2 separate regions of the Homo sapiens genome follow, and region 2 is linked to region 1. The links come from fine-mapping of genetic effects on gene expression. Tissue or cell type: whole blood. Region 1 holds a variant in brackets; the other region holds the start of a gene. All regions are shown on one strand. Distances are from middle to middle.

Region 1 (10,270 bases):
GGCTGGGTGTAGTAGCTCACGCCTGTAATCCCTACACTTTGGGAGGCCGAGGCGGGTGGATCATCAGAGGTCAGGAGTTCGAGACCAGCCTGGCCAACACAGTGAAAACTTGTCTCTACTAAAAACATAAGGCACATGCATGTAGTCCCAGCTACTCGGGAGGCTGAGGTGTTAGGATCACTTGAACCCAGGAGGTGGAGGTTGCAGTGAGCTGAGATCGCGTGACTGCATTCCAGCCTGGGTGATAGAGTGAGACTCCCTCTCAATAAATAAATAAATAAATGTCAACTTGCATAATGATATAACAGTATGATTCCATGGGAGAAAAAAAACCTAATTCTGAGGGGTTGTGTGTGCATAGCTATGTACACAAACACTTTAGTAAGCACTGAAAAGCATTTGAAAGTAGTCATACGAAATGTTAACAATAGTCACCTCTGGGAAGTGGTAACAGGGAAACTTAAAAATACCTGATTAATTTTCTATAATGTTCAAAACTTTTACAGTGAATATTCTATTAAAAATAGATTAAAATCTTAGTAAACTGAGGATAATTTTAGTATTAAATAACTTGTATTAGTCAAAGCTAACTAAAAAGCATAATACAATTTTTAGAAATGTATACAGATGTTATAAAATCAATGTTTAAAATTTACACAAGCTGTAATGTACATAAGCTGGAGAGGAAGTCTGATTTGTATCTAAAAGCTCCAAATAAAGAAGGCAGTTTATCAAAAATATAATTTGTAGAAAATTATTACTTGTTGAAAAGAGGCCAGATTCTTTCTCAAGACAGTAGAAAACTACTATTTTTTCATACAGTAGAGAGAAATAAGTGCTAATGGACTTCAGATTTATGGCTGCGTTTACTTTTTCAGAAGAAATCAGAAGATGTAAGAGAATTAGAAGAAATAACAAGTATAATTGTTAATTAAAGTTTAAATCTGGTAACTTCCTAGGCATTTTACTGCTATATGGTATATTGTATAATCTATTTTCTTACTGACGAGTTGAAGCTGAATTTGCAAACCCAAGTGTATTGTGAGAATATCATAACTTCCTCAAGGTTAACAAATATCAGAATGTAATGTTTTAAATTAAGTTGCATTTATTGACCTCCCATAGACTAGGCCTAAAACTGTGAAATTTCTATTACTGTTTTTTTTTTTTTTTGAGACAGAGCCTTGCTCTGGAAATCCCACTACAAATTGCCTGGGAAGAGCAGTAGCAGCACTGGATGGGGCTAAGTACTGTAAGTAATCTCCATTTCACAGTCTAGAATTTGTTTTTAAATGTATAGAGAAAACTATAGAGCCACAGAATGTAGAACTGAAAAGAAACAGATTTGCTAGTTCAAAATTCCTATTCTACTGACTTTGAATTCTTTGCCCAAAGTTCCTCATTTGGTATAATATGCATACGTGCCTGGGCGACAGAGTGAGTGAGACTCTGTCTCCAAAAAAAAAAAAAAATTAATTTAGATGCTTCAACAAAAACTCACATAAGCTCATTATGTCTAAACCTTTAGAGATTACATTTTTTTAAATCTTTAAAAACAACAAAATTTAGTTGTTTAGTTAGTAAAATAAAGGTCACTAGAATCAAATTTCATATTTGGATATGAAAGTTTTCTCTCTAGTGGACTCATGTTTAAAATGAGGAGAAAAACCTTGTTAAGGTAAGTCAATAAATGACTGCAAAAAAATCTAGGGCAAAATTAGGATCTTTCGTAAGTCACTGGAATCAATGTTCAACCAAACAGTATGTAAAGAAAGTGGCTATAAAGTATGCAAGAGGCAAAATAACGGAAAGACAACAAAATATACATAAACAAAAAATGTTAACTAAATTCTCCACATTCAGAGATCTAAGTACTAGATTTCAAACGTCCTTAAATTCAGTAGTCCCATAATCCCATAATTAATTTTCTTTTCTGAAAACTCCTTGCATTCTATTATTAAATTTTAAATGCTGTTTGTAAAACAAAATTTTTAAAACTAAAAGTGCCATTTTCAACCTTAAAAATATAAACTATTGGCCAGATGTGGTGGCTCACTTCTGTAATCCCAGCACTTTGAGAGGCCGAGGTAGGAGGATCGCTTGAGCCCAGGTGTTCTAGACCAGCCTGGGAAACACAGTGAGATTCCATCTCTACAAAAAATAAAAATAATTAGCCAGGTGTGACGGCATGTGCCTGTGGTCCTAGCTACTCAGGAGGCTGAGCGGGGAGGACTGCCTGAGCCCAGGGGTTCGAGGCTGTAGTAAGCTATGATCGTACCACTGCACTCCAGCCTGGGCAACAGTGAGAACTTGTCTCAAAAAAAAAAAAAAAAAGATTTATTAAAGTTACTAATCAAGTTGGAATAACTAAATATTATAGGGCTTTATAACGATTACAGTCAATGTCATGAAAAATACTTTTCCTCACAGCAAGTATTAAATTTGTTATCCTAACATTTCTATATGATAGGTATTTTTGTACTTGCATTTCTGCATAAGTACATATTTTATACTAAAACATAGCATACTCTTACCCCAGCTTTGAAAATCCCAGTGAAGTTCTAGATAAAAGTCACCTAGCTGAAAAATGAAATATGAATAATTACTAAATGCACCTTAGTTAAAAGTTCTTATGCTTTAAAAATATGGCTATTCCTTAAAACATTATAATACATGCATTACTATACTTAATTACAAAGGAAAATATGCACCTGTATATTTTATAATATTTTAATTACATAGTAACATATCTGAAACTGATAAGCATTTAAATTTGTATCAATAAATATTACACTTCCCAGTATAAACAAAATAACAATAATAATAAATATTATTTTTTAAATAGTTAACTTTAGAAGTGTTATTAAAAATTACTACCAAAATGATTATTTGTATAACCTCATAATGGCATTTAAAAAATGGCCCATTGTAATAGAAAATATTTTTCTGTAAAGGGATAATACAAGTTTATTAAATCTGAAACATGTCATCATATAATATCTATGAAAAAAAAATTTTTTTTTTTTGAGATGCAGTCTCACTCCATCGCCCAGGTTGGAGTGTAGTGGCATGATCTCAGCTCACTGCAACCTCTGCCTCCTGGGTTCAAGCAATTCTCCTATCCCAGCCTCCCAAGTAGCTGGGACTACAGGCGCCTGCCACCATGCCTGGCTAATTTTTTTTTTTTAATTTTTAGTACAGATGGAGTTTCACCTTTTTGGTCAGGCTAGTCTCGAACTCCTGACCTCAGGTGATCCACCCGCTTCGGCCTCCCAAAGTGCTGGGATTACAGGCGTGAGTCACCATGCCTGGCCGAAAAAAAATTTTATTTTGCAAATTAGAAGCTAGACACCAAAGATTATAACTGTTAAGAGTATATATTCTAAATATAAGTAGAGCATTACATATATAGCAACATCAACAAGTTAGTCTTTCTTTTTCAAAAAGTGATAAAAGTGAATGTTAATAGTAGATATCATTGCAATATGAGTAAAACATTTTTCTGGCTTTTTCTATATTTCTTAAGATCTAAAAAAAAAAAAAAGCACCATTAACAGAGACAAGCTATCATCATAATCATCATGACAGGTCTATCTTTCTCCCACAGTTCTTTCAGGCAGCAGAAATACAGAGAAGAGAGTAACAATAGAAAACAAACCACTCTCTTTTGTGTGCCAGCATACCCAGCTCTTACCACAAGGAGGTAGGACAGATAAAAAGAGTTTTTGTTACATAAAGAATATACAGGCCGGGCACGGTGGCTCACGCCTATAATCCCAGCACTCTAGGAGGCTGAGGCAGGCGGATTGCTTGAGCTCAGGAGTTTGATACCAGCCTGGGTAATATGGTGAAACCCCATCTCTACTAAAAATACAAAAAATTAGCTGGGCGACAGAGTGAGGCGCTGTCTCCAAAACAAACAAACAAAAAAAACTGCCACTTCTAGTAGCAATGGCTTTAGCTATAGAGAATCTTCTAATTCAAAGGCAAAGGAAAATTATTGCCATTAACTGTGACTTACCTCCTTTTTTTTTCTTTAGAGCTCTTATCTAATTTATTGAAAGTAATAAATCTTTATCTTCCTAGTTCAAACTGAGGTGCTTCTACTAAGATCACATTCATACACTAATTATTGCTTAATTTAAGCATGATTTTTACCATTTTTTGGCCCCTAATAAGTGAGAATTTAAGTTGTATTAAGAAAAAAATGCTTAAAACTACACTTATAATTACTTCCAAGGTGCAAAATTAACAAAGAAATATAGCTTACCTCTTTCAGGGCTTTTAATAATCGAGGTCGTTTTTCTTCAACACTTTCCCTGGATTGCTGCTTAAGCTTCCTCAAAAGAGCTGTAACTAAAGTTTAAATTTTAAAAATAACTAATTTAAATTTTCATCATGCAGTAAAAACACCACTGGCTTATTATACATATAGATAGATAATACATGTACACATATATGCACGTGCATGTATGTGTGTATGTGTATGTGTGTATCTACATCTACAATATATTTTGAAAGGCCAAAAATCAAAGAGCAATGTTTAAATTACTGAAGGCCTCTTGGAACAGTAAAAGAAGCTGAGACATAGAAGTCAGAGAACATGGGACCTATATAGATAGAATAAGTTAGTAAGTAAGTTTAATAAAACTGGTATGATCCCCAAAGAATAATGAGAAGAGATATTTCAACATCAACCTATACCATATTCACACTAGCTTTTACTAGTTTTTTAATTATCAGTAACGATTTACCTAACTGTGCCAAGATAACCAAACTCATTCAAATGATGCAATGTCCTAATAGAACACTGACCTCAAGGAAGATCTCAAAAACAACAGATCTCAAAAATCCCACTGGAAGCCACTTTTCTAAAAACATATAATTACCTGCAATTGTTACCAGGTGTTATCTGTTCTTTTACCACTGGAGGATATACCTTCACATACTACCAGCACAGTATAAAAAATACAAAAATGAATCTTATTGTACATGGAAAAAGAACTTCTGAATCTAAGAAAACCTAAAGGTCCTCCATAGTGTATTTTCAGTTACTGAGATTTAAGCACATTGCTGAAGTTCAAACCCCAGCTTTACCACTTAGTGGTTGTGGGTAAACTTGGACAAGTTACTACTTAATTTCTCTAAACTTCCTTTTTTTTTCCTCTCCTTTGTCAAGTAAGAATAGAAGTAAGGGCACAGTGGTCTGCACCTGTAGTCCCAGCTACTCAGGAGGTTAAGGTGAGAGGATCACTTGAGCTCAGGAGTTCGAGACCAGCCTGGGAAACATAGTAAGACCCCATCTCTAT[T/TA]AAAAAAAAAAAAAAAAATTAGCCAGGGCTTGATGGTGTGTACCTGTGGTCCTAGCTACTTGGGAGGCTGAGACAGGAGGACTGGTTGTGCCCAAGAGTTTGAGGCTGCAGTGAGCTATGACCACTGCACTCCAGCCTGGGTGACAGAGCAAGACACTGTGCCTGTAATTAACTAAATACAATTTTTATCTATTAGAATGAAGGTCTAAAATTCACTGGCAAAATCAATCAATTAATCCTTAATATTTACCAAAATAAGAAAAAATATTAGACTTGAATGAAATAAGCATAGGAAAAAATAAGAACATGGAAAAATGTGCATCGGGGAAAATATATACATATATACACGCTAGTTTCCTCCTGATTCTAACACATTTTTCATATACATACATATACATATGCGTTCTGAGGGCTTTTTAAAAATCAGTAAATTATTTTTACTATTTCACAGCATGCATTCTTATAAACCACTTCAAGTCCCATGTGGAACGCAGAAGCAGAAGGCGAATAAAAAAAGAAGGTAGTGAAAGCTTGGACTAGATTTTTTTTTTTTGTCCACATAGGTCCAAAATTAGGAAAAATCTAGGGAAGCATGTAAAAATAGTAGGAGCTATTCTTATTTTTAACCACAGGTCTAACTAAATTCCAATATATTTTAAAAAGCCAAAAATCAAAGAACAATGCTTAAATTACTGAAGGTGTCTCAAAATAATCAAAACTGAGACACAGAAATCGGAATGCAGGACCTAGTTTCAGTTCTACCATTTACTAGCTCGGTGACCTAAATCAATAATTCCCAAATACGAACCTACATTTCTGTGCCCAATTGTTTGAGTTTCCAATGATATACAGAAAATGAGAAAAAATGTGTACTAGAATGAGTTTTTTCTTAATAAATTTTTTTAAAGACTATTCTTCCTACTTTTGGTTTCAAATATCTTTTTTTTAAAAATAAAATGTGGATCACAAAAGACAGTAGTTATCGTTTTTATAAAGTTCTGATAGTCTAAGATGAAAAAGTTAGATTCCCTATATCAATCACCAGTAAAAAAAATTTTTCTGGTCTGTGAAATCCAAAAAGTCTGAGAATCAATGACTTAGATAATCATTTAAAGATTCAAGTATGAATCTGACAAACCTTCCTGTTCATTATAATTTAACTTTAATGTCAAAGTTATATTACTCAAATGTAGTACAATTCTTTTTAATGGTCATTGTTTTCTACTATAAGCTCAAGTACCTTAATAAATCTTATTCAATCTACCTTGCCTTCAGATTGAAATGGACCTCAGTTGAATGCAGAGAATGAAAAGAATTCAATTCCTAGATAAAAAGGGTCTTTCAATAAAAAGCAGAGGCTACATATTTTTTTATCAGCCTGATTTTATTAACTAAATATAATTGTAACTGACTGAAGGCATTCAGTAAATAATGACCAAACATCATTTAAAAAGCTGAAGGCATTCAATAAATAACGACCAAACATCATTAAAAAGGTAATGGCAACCACTGTATATAGCACAGTATAATAACATATGCGAAGAGATTCCCTTTTCTATATGACTTCATATTGAAAAATACCATAAACTCAAACTTCTTATGGATGCACATTCAGAAAGCAATTACACAAAATTACCAATTACCAGTATCCTTTTTAGGGATCAGTATTTGTATTCCCATATTGTAAGAATTTTATTAATACTGATTAACAATGAAGATTAAAATTAGCTTTAGAGGATTTAGGTGATAAAAGAATTCATACAAAGACTCAAATGCAAAAGTCCATAAACCACAACTAATTTTACTTTCTCCTTCCTCCTTCTCCGACTGAAGTTTACAGTTTGACCTAAAGCTTTTGGAACTATGCCCTACTGCTCCAAGTATTACTTAAATCTGTTACCTTTTGCACTCCTCTTCCTTCTAAGCTCCAATCTATTTCCTGCTTCCCACCTGGACAATTCTACCTGATGTACTACAGTTGATTCAAACCCAACAAATCTAACACAAATTAAAGACCATACTGCTCTTGCTCCTATAGTCTATATATCAATTAAGTAATGAAATCACCATCAATCCATAATAGAGACCTTAGAGTTACTCTGAATCATTTTATCATTACCCATATCCAAGAGATAATCCATTCTGTTAAATCAATCTTTGTTTTTTTTTTTTTTTTTTTTTTGAGACGGAGTCTCGCTCTGTCGCCAGGCTGGAATGCAGCGGCGCAATCTTGGCTCACTGCAACCTCTGCCTCTTGGGTTCAAGCTATTCTCCTGCCTCAGTCTCCAGAGTAGCTGGGACTACAGGTGTGCGCCACCATGCCCAGCTAATTTTTGTATTTTTAGTAGAAACAGGGTTTCACCATGTTGGCCAGGATGGTCTCGATCTCTTGACATCATGATCCACCTGCCTCAGCCTCCCAAAGTTCTGGGATTGCAGGCATGAGCCACCACGCCCGGCTAAACCTTTCTTTTAATTACTTTCTGATCTATCCCTTCCTTCTCTAAAAACACTATGTCTTTAAGTCAAGCTTACCTCATTTGTTCCAAAAATGTTTTGTTCTAAATATCTCTTGCCTCCCTGACTCCGCTGTATTAATTAGAAAGTCTTTTCACTTATCTAATAATAACAAGCCCTGCTTTGAAGTCTTCTGGGGTTTTGCAGAGACTGGAAATTGGGATTAAAATCTTGACTAGCACATAAAGCTGATATCAATGTGGTCCTTTTATCATTACAACTTCATTTCCCAACACTGGTCTTTGCCCCTTCATCCATCTTTGCCATGTATCATTAAGAAGCCAAATACAGGGGCACGGTGGCTCACACCTGTAATCTCAGCACTTTGGGAGGCCGAGCCGGGTGGATTGCCTGAGGTCAGGAGTTCAAGACCAGCCTGGCCAACATAGTGAAACCCCGTCTCTACTAAAAATACAAAAAATTAGCTGGGTGTGGTGGCGGGTGCCTGTAATCTCAGCTACTCGGGAGACTGGGGCAGGAGAATTGCTTGAATCTGAGAGGCGGAGGCTGCAGAGAGCCAAGATCGCGCCATTGCATTCCAGCCTGAGCAACAAGAGGGAAACTCCATCTCAAAAAAAAAAAGAAACCAAATACATATTGTTCCCTAGCATATGCCTTTTTTTTTTTTTAATATTTCCATGCTTTATACACATTCCACTCTCGCACAGTAGAATGCCTTTACCCACCTTTTTAACTTCTAAAACCCTTTGAGACAGCTTTAATAACCAAACACCTTGCTAAGAACCTGAATAACTTTTCCACTCATCTGTTTCCCCCAGGACTTTGTAAATACTTCAGAATGCCACAGAATATTCACTGGTCTCTCTCCCTTAAGTAGGATGACTTCCTCAATATCAAAGTTAATGGCACATCCTGACTATGTTTCTGACACATCTAGTAGGTATTCAGAACACAAATAGACAATTCCTGGCCTCATACACTCTGCCTAAAGGGAATGGGCAGAGTTCTGAGACAATATATGAGCAGAGAAAACTTCCTTGTACTTGAGCTGAGATCTGAAGAATCTTAAGGAGCTGTGACAAAAAGAGGGGGATATATAAGTATGAGGAGTATGAGAAACCAAAAAGCCAGCAGAGCTGACACATAGAAAGCCAGATGGAAAGAACAAGATGAGGAAGGAGACAAGGAAGTGATAGTATCATACTGGACCTTATAAACAAAGTTAGCAATTTTGGTCTTTGTCCTCAGAACAGGAGGTTTTAAAGAATTTTATGTAGAGAATAATATGACCAGAAGACGAAACTAAAATATAACAAAATATTAACAGTGGTTGTCTTTTTTTTTTTCTTGAGACAGGGTCTCACTTTGTCCCAGGCTCCAGGCTGGAGTGCAGTGGCACAATGTCAGCTCACCACAGCCTCAGCCTCCCAGGCTCAAGTGGATCCTCCCATCTCAGCTCCCAAGTAGCTGGGGCCACATACGCACATCACCATGCCTGGCTAATTTTTGTATTTTTTTGTAGAGACAGGTTTTTGCCATGCTGCTTAGGCTGGTCTTGAACTCCCAGGCTCAAGCGACCCACCTGTCTCGGCCTCCCAAAGTGCTGGGATTATAGGCATGCCCCACCACACCTGACCCAACAGTGGTTATCTTTGAGTGATATTATTTTCTTTTCTTTTCCCTATAATTCCTAATTTTCTACGATGAATGTCATCATTTTCTTATAAGAAAAAACAAAGTTTTGAAAACTCAGGAGAGTTGTGATAAATAAAAGTCCTACTATAATACTTTACTTTTTTCTTTTTTTTTTTAGACAGGGTCTCACTCTGTCACCCAGGTTGGAGTGCAGTGGCGTGATCTCAGCTCACTGCTACCTCCACCTCCCAGGGTCAAGCAATCCTCCCACCTCAGGCTCCCGCGTAGCTGGGACTACAGGCACACACTACCACACCAGCTAATTTTTGTACTTTTTGTAGTGTTGGGGTCCCCCTATGTTTCCCAGGCTCAAGCAATCTGCCTGCTTTGGCCTCCCAAAGCGCTGGGGTTACTGGCATCTAATATAATACTTTAAAGAAAAATTTTGATTCTTGATACACAGTCTCGAATTTTCTTTGTAGTTTTTATTCATCTCTTCATTAATTCATTAAACAAATATTGTACCAGAGATAAAGGGGTGAATAAGATAACATATGCATGACTTGAAGTCTCACAAAGCTTATATTATCAAGATACACAGAGTAGGGAACACATACTGAAAAATTAATTAGAAGTATGCAACATATTGCAAAGGAAAAGACTAAACCACTTTGAAAATGTACAAGAAGAAGAACTTAACCTACTCTAGAAGTTGAGAAAAGCCTTCTCTCAAAAAGAAATTTAAAATTGAAGGCTAAATGAAGACTTCTAGTTCAATGTAAGATGGCAAACCAATATGAACTGCTGTCTCTTCCTCCACATTAACACCTTTGATGTGCCACAAAAAT
Region 2 (10,270 bases), 38 kb after region 1:
AAACTGCCAAATTTCTCAGAATAAATCAGAAATTTTTCACATCTAGGAAAGGCTGGCTTGAGCAATTCATATGTTCAGGACTTTCATCACGTTGGCACCTAAAAGCTTCTGACTAGCATCCAAGAGAAGCTGCTTAGCTTCTTAAAGACATTTAACTCAAAGGAAAAAACAAAATTACAAGTCTAACCAATCAGAAGTACAGTCAAACCAAGAAAATCTTCTATACGTTTCATATTCTCAATTCTCAATAAGTAAAATTATTATCAATTATAAAAAATGTCTTGTCATCATGATCCTTTGCCAAACTATCAATGGCAAAAATTGATTCAGAAAAATCCTTACACTCTGACTATGGAAAAAGGCTTAGATTCAATCTTTTAATTTTACACTAAAGAAAAAAGTGGTATATAACCAAAGATAGAGTTCCATAATTTTGTGTACTTTTAATATTTCTTCCCCACCCAAAAAACAGCTGTTATTAAGTGATGAGTCACAATCATTTGGCATATTTGAATACAACATATACATGATTTTATAGCTGTTACTGTACTTAAACATACCTCAAGAAATATGTTTGGACCCAGAATACAATACTTCACAAAATAATTGATGACTCAAAAAAAAAAAAAATTCCTACTCAACCAATATTTTACCACAAAAGTAAAAGCTCTATCCTTTCTTCTATTCAATTTAAGTCAGTAACTTGCAAATGCACACACACACCAAAAATTTTACCAAATCAGTGATAGTTTAAACTGAAATAGCTTATGAACTGAACTAAATAGTGACCAAATCAGGATTCAACAAGTTCTCCAGGTACAATAAAGGACCAAAACTAACAAAATAAAATGTAATAGCTCTAAAGTCCTGCGTTGAGGTTAAAAAAATAAATAAATACAAGAAGGGATAGAATGGAAAGACAGCAGATCACTTGAGAAAAAAACATAATTAAAAAATTAACATACTCTTGGCCGGGCATGGTGGCTCATGCCTGTAATCCCAGCACTTTTGTAGGCTGAGGTGGGCAGATCACTTGAGGTCAGGCGTTCCAGACCAGCCTGGCCAACACGGTGAAACCCTGTCTCTACTAAAAATACAAAAATACAAAAATTAGCCGGTGTGGTGGTGCATGCCTGTAGTCCTAGCTTCTCAGGAGGCTGAGACAGGAGAATTGCTTGAACCCAGGAGATAGAGGTTGCAGTGAGCCAAGATTGCACCACTGCACTCCAACCTGGGTGACAGAGTGAGATTCCATCACAAAAAATAATAAATTAATTAACATACTCTTGCACTGCATAACTAAGTATATGCTGCTTTACAGCAATATAGTCTCCCTGTTGTCTTTGCTCACAAGGCTAATATATCTCCAGCAATAAGGTTAGTTCTGGGCACCATCTTCTAAGGGAAGAATTAACAAACAAGTTCTACTAAACGATGATGATGAAGATTTTCATTTACTTATTTAACACACATATAGTATTCACTATGTTTCAGGGACTATTCTAAATACTTCACAAACAATGTGATGAGGAATGGATACAAAAGTTAGGAATATTTAACCTGAAGGTAATCTTGCCAAATATCTAAAGGGCTATCATGTGGACAAAGTAGCCCATTTATTTGGGCCGTTATATAAAAAAGAAATAACAAACAAGGCTAAGAGATCTGGGCTCCACAGAAAAACCTGAGCTGTCCAATGGTAGAATCTCTTTACAAGACTCTTGTACGGAACAAATGAGAAAAAAATATATTTAAAAAATACATTAAAGAACTTTGCTATAAAACACCAAACGCACATTATGAGAATTGACTTCCTTGCAATATAGAGGGTCCTAATCAATAGAAATACTTACAAAGAGGTTCATGATATGCTTTGGAGTCCTTGCTATGATTTATAGCTTTGAGATTTATACTATATAACTTTAGTGACGTTTCCTTGCCTCTCTAGGCTTATTTTTCTTATTTTTAAAATGAGTGTAAAACTATCTGCTTTGGACTTGGCACGGTGGCTCACGCCTGTAATCCCAGCACTTTGGAAGGTTGAGGTGAGTGGATTACCTGAGGCCAGGAGTTTGAGATAGGCCTGGACAACACGGTGAAACCCAGTCTCTACTTAAAATACAAAAATTAGCCAGGCATGGTGGCACACGCCTGTGGTCCCAGCTACTCAGGAGGCTGAGGCAGAAGCATCACTTGAACCCGGGAGGCAGAGACTACAGCAAGAGCAGATCATTCCACTGCACTCCTTTGCAGGGCTGCTGTGAGGATTAAATGTTACAATGTATGTAAACACTTAGCACCCTGCTGACCCACTGGATAAATTGTGTCTATAATAAGGACAATAATCATCACTGTCATCATCATGTTGTGAAAGGAATCCTTACGGTGAACATAAAACTATGTAATACATGGTATAATTGTCTGGCTCTGCTATGTACCTGTATGAGTGTCTTATTCTGCTATGCATTTATGTTAAAGCAATCCAAAGAGAATATACATCATTTATTTATTTATTTTATTTTATTTATTTATTGAGACGGAGTCTCACTCTGTTACCCAGGCTGGAGTGCAACGGTGCGATCTTGGCTCACTGCAACCTCAGCCTCCCAGGTTCAAGCGATCCTCCTGCCTCAGCTTCCCAAATAGCTGGGATTACAAGCATGCACCACCATGCCAGGCTAATTTTCATATTTTCAGTAGAGACGGGGTTTCACTATGTTGGTCAGGCTGGTCTTGAACTCCTGACCTCAGGTAATCCACCCACCTCGGCCTCTCAAACTGCTGGGATTACAGGTGTGAGCCACCGCACCTGGCCAAGCTTGCTGTTGTTTAAGTGATTTTATAAGTATTTATCTTCTATAATTTTAAAGCAAAAATATCCTAAAAATCTAAAAGCATCCAGGTTAGTAAAATGTCAAGACTAAAAGTAATAATGTATCAGAAAAATCTATGAGGCTATGGGAGAAAAAATGACTAAATAAGAAGCACATTAAATTGAAGCCACAGTTCCTAGGACACCTCACTGTAGGAGATGAGCATGTACACATTGCAGGGGGGAAAGCAATTATATTTACCCCAGGTATGTGAACCACCGGTTACATTAATCAGAAACATCAATGATATAAGGTCAGCTAAACACAATAAAAACCTTCCTTTAAAAAAGTGAATTTCAAGGCCAGGCGCGGTGGCTCAGGCCTGTAATCCCAGCACTCTGGGAGGCCGAGGCGGGCAGATCACGAGGTCAGGAGATGGAGACCATCCCGGCTCACACAGTGAAACCCCGTCTCTACTAAAATTACAAAAAAATTAGCCTGGCGCGGTGGTGGGCGCCTGTACTACCAGCTACTCAGGAGGCTGAGGCAGGAGAATGGCGTGAACCCGGGAGGCGGAGCTTGCAGTGAGCGGAGATTGCACCACTGCACTCCAGCCTGGGCGACAGAGCAAGACTCCGTCTCAAAAAAAAAAAAAAAAAAAAAAAAGTTAATTTCAGTGGGCTAAGGACAAGAGTTTAAGAGTATACAGGATTCTAATTACTTTGAACAGAATTTGAACTTAAACAAATGTACTCCTAAATGTTGGGTTGAAGAAGACATGGAAGCCCAACAATCCTGTAATTCAATAGCTTCAGTGATATTCATCCATCTCTTCTTTCAAAGGGAGTTAACTCTCAAACCTTTTATCTGTTTCAGGGATATTTCAAGGTAATGTAACTATGGCTACTATGTAAACCAAATTTGAAAAACTTCCTCATAATAGACTAATAAACTGAAGCTACAACCCATCTCCCACTAACAACTGTTTTCCAAAGGGCTAGCATAGAATTACCATCATCAACAAACAACATTATCCTTGTACTATAATAGTAAAATGATTAAGTAATTTAAATGTAGGAAAGAAAAACTGGCTGCAACTTTAACATACTTTTTTGGGGATTTATGATAAATGATAGGTGGTGATTTTATTACAATTACAACATTGTAAATTCTGAAAACAAATGCAGTTGTTAGATAATTATACAGCCAAGAGAAATCTTACTCGTTTTTTTTATCTGAATTTTTGTCCTAAAAAGCCTACGATCCAATGGAATTAAGTGAGCTTATTTCACAGGCAAATATTTCATTGATACGTATATCATTTTGAGCACAAAGTTGGTTCAGTGTGTTCTAACTGAATGTATACAATTTTCATATTAATAGCAGAGCGATCAACAATATTTGCCAACTACCCAGTTTAAAACGGCTATTAAATGTTAAAATGTCAGTGTTCACATTAGTCTTCAATAATAAATTTACTGTTGCTTAAAAGTCAACTCAGTCACATTATTTTTTAGAATTAAACAAAAAATTCAGCTGACAAGGCAAAAAGAAATGGTCAATATTGACTAAGATAAAATTACCATAAAAATCATAATACTATTTTTAGTCACAGTCATCAAGATGAGACATTACTATTAGCAATTATCTACTTAAAACAAGCAAAAAATCAAATCTCTACTCAAACAAAAATCGGCTGTTGAGAAGTCACTTTAACTGTTCTACGTATCAAATACCAACAAATTTCTACTGTGTGGCTTTCAGAAATCTAACATTCTAAGTTTACTGAAAGCAGACAAAAAAGAAACAACCTGGTGGCAGGCAAAATCACAACCAGTTGCAGTCAAGATGGGATCTGTATGTGAGCAATGAAGGGAGGAGGGCAATTTATGCGTTCAAAATTTAAAATGCCAAGGTAGGGGGAAGAGAGAGAAATAAAGATATATAGCTCCATAAACAAAGGGAGAAAACCATGTTGGGTGGGAGGCAACCTAAAATTTCTGACAGTCCAGAATCAGCAAATCGAAGGCCTGTCTCAAACAAAACAGCTTCTCACGACAAACTTTGAAGTGGGCAAGGAGGATACATTCCTTTGCACCCACAAGAACCAACCCCTTGACCACTGGCACGCTATTACTGAGTCGATCATGATTTACCGAACGGCCCGGATGATGGGCAAAAAGAAGAGTCTGCTGGAGGGGGCCTAGGATTCCAGAAGCCTGGGGAGGCACACCCTAGGCTCGGGGAAGGAGAGAGGTGGAGAGGGGCTAGCACTCCTCACCGTGATTATCTTTCTGCCCGATATTGTGCGTGCGGATGAGAGAGGAGAGTCTCCTCACATCCCCCTTGAAGACGCACTCGTGCACCGGGTAGTGTGCGGGGCAACTGCCTCCATCCGCGACGACAGCAACGGGGTTGGTGCCGGCCAGAAGGGCCGGGGACTGGGAGTTGGCAGTCACGGAGGAATTGTGCAGCGGCAGAGCCGGGGCGCCGGGGGGATTGGAGGAGGCCGGAGCTGCCTTCAGCTGTAGCCGGTGGTGATGGTTACTGAAGATCTTATGACAAGCTTTGCCGCCCTTGCCAATCCTGCTTCTGGTAAAGGTACCGCCGAGGGCAGCCGCCGCTTCCTCATCCCCGGGCTCCAGCAGGTCCCCTTCTTCTTTGCTGGGCTTGTGGTCCCTCCGCAGTGAGCGGATCTTCTCCCCGGTCATCGCCGCCGCCAGGGGCAAGGGGGGGAATCGGGAGGCTCACCGCTGGCGACGGAGCTGGCGCTGCGGCGGCACAAGGCGATTAGAGCGGTGGCCAAGAGCCTCCAGCGCAGCATGAACTCCCACTGAGCCCCCGAGCCTGGGACAAACGCATCTCCCGGGGAAGAGCCGGCTCTCGCCTAGGCACGAAGGGACGCGCGCTCGCTGGGGGAAGCTAGAACTCAGGTGCCCACGACACCAGGATCTCAGTCTCGCCGTCGCAGCCGCCGTCGCTGCCTTACACCGAAAAACAGGGCACGGCCATCTTCCTCTTGCTCCTCTCGCGAGAGCTCCCCCAGGAGTGAAGAGAGAGAAAACACCGCGATAAGTGAGCCACCCGCTCCCTCCCTCGCACCTTCTATTCCCAGAATCACTAGGCGCCGGCGCCTCCGAGGCAGTGTGTTTCCGCCCAGAGCTGGAGTCTCCCAGCTGCCAGCCGACCCCGAACCCGCACTCCCGCCAACCGCGCTTTTTGTGGGCGGTCGGAAACCACAGCCTCCGTTGGATATGTTCGGTGCATGTTATAAACAACCACTTAAACCCTCCGGATCTGAGCCTCCCGCAGAGGAATGCAGAATGACGCCACGGCACGCAGGATGTGATGTCACCGAGATGCAGAGGATACTCAGTCAACCAACATTTACTGAGCATCTACTTCGTGCCGTATGTACGAAGCTAGCAAATATGTACAGCACCAGTACTGATTGCAGGGAGCACTGTAGAAGAGGAATGAAGGCCAAACAATTAAAAGCGGAGGCGGGGAGGTGGGTTGCACACAAAAAAGGGAGGGACGAATTTTAGTGTTGAGTTGTCAGGAAAGTCATAGAAGAGTTTAGGTGCTGACTTTGGAAAATGATGGGCTGTCCAGCAATCGGAAAGAGGGGAGGCCACTCAAATATTTATTAGATGAATGAATTTCGGGCAGATGTCAGAGTTAACATATATGAGGGTGGGGACACTCAAGGAGGGCAAAGAATCGTGTAACTGAAATATAATTGTATTAGTTCATGGCCAACCTCAACCTAGTGTCAAACTCTGAAGAAACGTAAATCTGCCAACCATAAAACTTTAACAAAGTAACTAAAGCTGGCCACTGAGGACGTAAGGAGGGGGCTTAGCAAAACATCCTAAAGATCTTCACCCATTTAACTCTCCAAAGTCCCCCTATGTTCTGAGAGCAAATACTTCAGATCTCTCTCTCTTTTTTTTGTTTTTTTGTTTTTTTGACAGAGTCTCTGTAGTCCAGGCTAGAGTGCAGTGGTGCAATCTCGGCTCACTGCGACCTCCACCTCCCAGGTCCAAGCGATTCTCCTGCCTCAGCCTCCAGAGTAGCTGGGATTATAGGCCTGCGCCACCACACCAAGCTAATTGTTGTATTTTTAGTAGAGACGGGGTTTCACCGTGTTGGCCAGGCTGGTCTTGAACCCCTGACCTCAGTGATCCGCCAGCCTCAGCCTCCCAAAGTGCTGGGATTACAGGCATGAGCCACTGCGCCCGGCCAGATCTCTTCTTTCTTAAAGTTTATACTACTGCTAACTCATCTCCGCAAACAAACAACTCGATGGGCCTCTCTTAATCCTCCCCAGTCACTCAACTTTTCACCTCCAATTTTCTTCTCAGTCTGTTCAGATAAATCTGTTTCTTCCTCTTCTTTCTTTTTCGGTGGAGTGGAGAGTTCCGTTTATGTTAAAACATTACCCAATCAACAGTTCAAAGCATCCTCTTGAGACAGCAGTAGAGACTGAAAAAATACATGCAATAATGTTTGCTTCTTCCACAATAGCCAATATTTATTGTTAACGCTAAGCCAGGCAGTATGCTTGGCACTTTATATGCTGTTATCTCCCCCTGATTAGCATTAGTATCCTCACTTGACAGTTAAAAAAAACTTGCCCAATACTTCAATGCTAGAATGTGGTACAGTCAAATCTGACAGTAAGGCTAGAGAGAGAGGAAGGGCCAGGTCATGCAGGGCTTTGTATGTCATCTTAAAAGTTTACACTTGGCCGGGCGCGGTGGCTTATGCCTGTAATTCCAGCACTTTGGGAGGCTGAGGCGGGCAGATCACGAGGTCAGGAGTTCGAGACCAGCCTGGCCAATATGGTGAAACCCTGTCTTTACTAAAAATACAAAAATTAGCTGGGCGTGGTGGCTTGTGCCCGTACTCGCAGCTACTCGAGAGGCTGAGGCAGAAGAATCGCTTGAACCCAGGAGGCGGGGGCTGCAGTGAGCTGAGATTGTGCCCCTGCACTCCAGCCTGGGGACAGAGTGAGACTCTGTCCAAAAAAAAAAAGGAATAGTCTTTTTAGAGATCTTTAAACAGGGAATAGCATAATGCAATCACCTTTATAGAAAATTCAGTGACTCAGGCCGAACGCAGTGGCTCATGCCTGTAATCCCAGCACTTTGGAAGGCTGAGGCGGGTGGATCACTTGAGGTCAGGAGTTCAAACCAGCCTGGGCAACATGGTGAAACCCTGTCTCTACTAAAAATACAAAAATTAGCCGGGCATGATGGTGGGTGCCTGTAGTCCCAACTACTCGGGAGGCTGAGGCAGGAGAATCGGTTGAACCTGGGAGGTGGAGGTTGCAGTGAGCCAAGATCGTGTAATTGCACTCCAGCCTGGGTGACAAGAGCAAAACTTGGTCTCAAAAAAAAAAAAAAATTAAAAAAAAGAAAATTCAGTCACTCATACTTTAGAGAAGTATGCATCAAGAACAGAACTTTAAAGAAGTATGCAGTAAATCAGATGATGAGAGCATGAACCAAGTTAGTAAGAGTGAGGCAGAAAAAGGTTTAAGAGGTTTTTAAAAATGAGTTCAATCTTAGCATATTGAGTTGAAAGTTGCTTATCTGTAGGGAGTTAGATGTTCTACATTTTAGATATTTGCAAGTGATCCTTAGGTAACAGAGAACTAGGTATGGGCTGGATTCAGAAGTTATCATTACACAGTAATTAATGCTCCAGAAGTGGGTGAGTTCCCCAAAGAAAAGTTTATAGAATGAGAAATTAAGAAGGTCCATATAGAACAAAATCTTGAAAACACCAATATTCAAAGCGTGTGTATAGGGTAAGTGGCCAGCATCCTATTACTAAAAACCTACACCAAATAATATCCCGTTATACTTGTGAAGTATTCTATCACTAGAGTCTGAATTTGAAATTTCTTTATTAGTGGCTGTCACCCATGGATGTCACCCATGGAATGTGGAAACTCATAAGTATCCCTCCAGTAAAATCAAACACCATACATATCAAAAATAATATTCAGGCCAGGTGTGGTAGCTCATACCTGTAATCCCAACACTTTGAAAGGCCAAAGCAGGAGGATCACTTGAGGTCAGGGGTTTGAAACCAGCCTGGGCAACATAGTGAAACCCCATCTCTATCAAAAAATATAAAATATTAGCCACCTGTGGTGCTAAACACCTGCAGTCCCAGCTACTCAAGAGGCTGGGGTGGGAGATCCACTTGAGCCTGGGAGTCCAAGGCTGCAGTGAACTAGGATTGCACTACTGCACACCAGCCTAAGTGACAGGTATCCTGTCTTTAAAAATAAATAAATAAATAAATAAATATCATCCTTTTTTATTTTTTATTTTATTTTATTTTTGAGACAGAGTTTTGTTCCCGTTGCCCATGCTGGAATGCAATGGTGTGGTCTCAGCTCACTGCAACCTCCGCCTCCTGGGTTCAAGCAATTCTCCTGCCTCAGCCTCCCAAGTAGTTGGCATTACAGGTCTCCACCACCATGCCAAGCTAATTTTTGTATTTTTAATAGAGATGGGGTTTCACCATGTTGGCCAGGCTGAGTCTCGAACTTCTGACCTCAGGTGATCCGCCCACCTCGGCCTCCCAAAGTGCTGGGATTACAGGCATGAGCCACCACACCAAGACTTATTTTTTGTTGTTTTTTGAGTCTCATTTTGTCAGCTAGGCTGGAGTGCAGTGGCATGATCTCAGCTCACTGCAACTTCCACCTCCCATGCTCAAGTGGATCCTCCCGCCTCAGCCTCCCAAGTGCTGGGACTACAGGGCCCAGCTAATTTTTGTATTTTTTTGTAGAGACTGGGTTTGGCCATGTCACCCAGGCTAGTCTCAAACTCCTGGACTCAAGCCATCTACCCACCTCGGCTTCCTGAAGTGTTGGGATTACAGGTGTGAGCTACTGCCCCCAGCCCATTCATTATTATTATTATTTTTTATAGAGGCCGTGTCTCACTATGTTGGTCAGGCTGGTCTTGAACTCCTGGGCCCAGGTGATCCTTCCACCTCAGCCTCCCAAAGTGCTGAGATGACAGGTGTGAGCCACTGCACTTGGCCCCATCCATTATTTTTAAGGGCTTGTAAAAATGACAGAAATGTAAGATTACAATATATTATAAAAAAGATAGAAATATGATTGTAATACATTATGAAAAATACAAGGATTGAAATTATATAAGCTCCCAATACAATATAGAAAAGGAAGTCATTAATTCTATTTGGGGAAAATAGAAATTGGATGATCAGAAAAGCTTTCTGGGGCTGGGCGTGGTAGCTCATGCCTGTAATCCCAGCACTTTGGAAGGCCGAGGTGGGCAAGTCACTTGAGGTCAGGAGTTCAAGATCAGCCTGACCAACATGGTGAAACCCCATTTCTACTGAAAAATACAAAAAGAATCAGCCAGGCATGGTGACGTCTGCTTGTAGTCCCAGCTGCTCGGGAG

What was found. PIP is the estimated chance that this variant, and not a neighbour inherited with it, causes the effect.
Region 2: it holds the start of ANKRD13C, and the variant in region 1 is the best candidate, but not a certain one, in a credible set for the expression of ANKRD13C in whole blood (INTERVAL, PIP 0.52).

The regions. Positions count from the first base shown.
Region 1 is chr1:70,311,211-70,321,480 of GRCh38, forward strand. It overlaps ANKRD13C (ankyrin repeat domain 13C), which reads right to left. Exons shown (of 13, transcript NM_030816.5): 4 at 4,271-4,356; 5 at 2,535-2,580. Among named protein-coding and RNA genes, the nearest start is that of ANKRD13C, 38 kb to the right of the region's middle. The variant T/TA (reference allele first, on the strand shown) is at 5,310.
Region 2 is chr1:70,348,885-70,359,154 of GRCh38, forward strand. ANKRD13C (ankyrin repeat domain 13C) reads right to left here and starts at 5,838. Exons shown (of 13, transcript NM_030816.5): 1 at 5,095-5,838. The coding sequence starts at 5,524. It overlaps ANKRD13C-DT (ANKRD13C divergent transcript), which reads left to right and starts at 5,927. Exons shown (of 4, transcript NR_168352.1): 1 at 5,927-6,324. RefSeq lists enhancers at 4,245-5,444, 4,704-5,622, 5,578-5,627, 5,623-6,540, 5,668-5,727 and 4 more.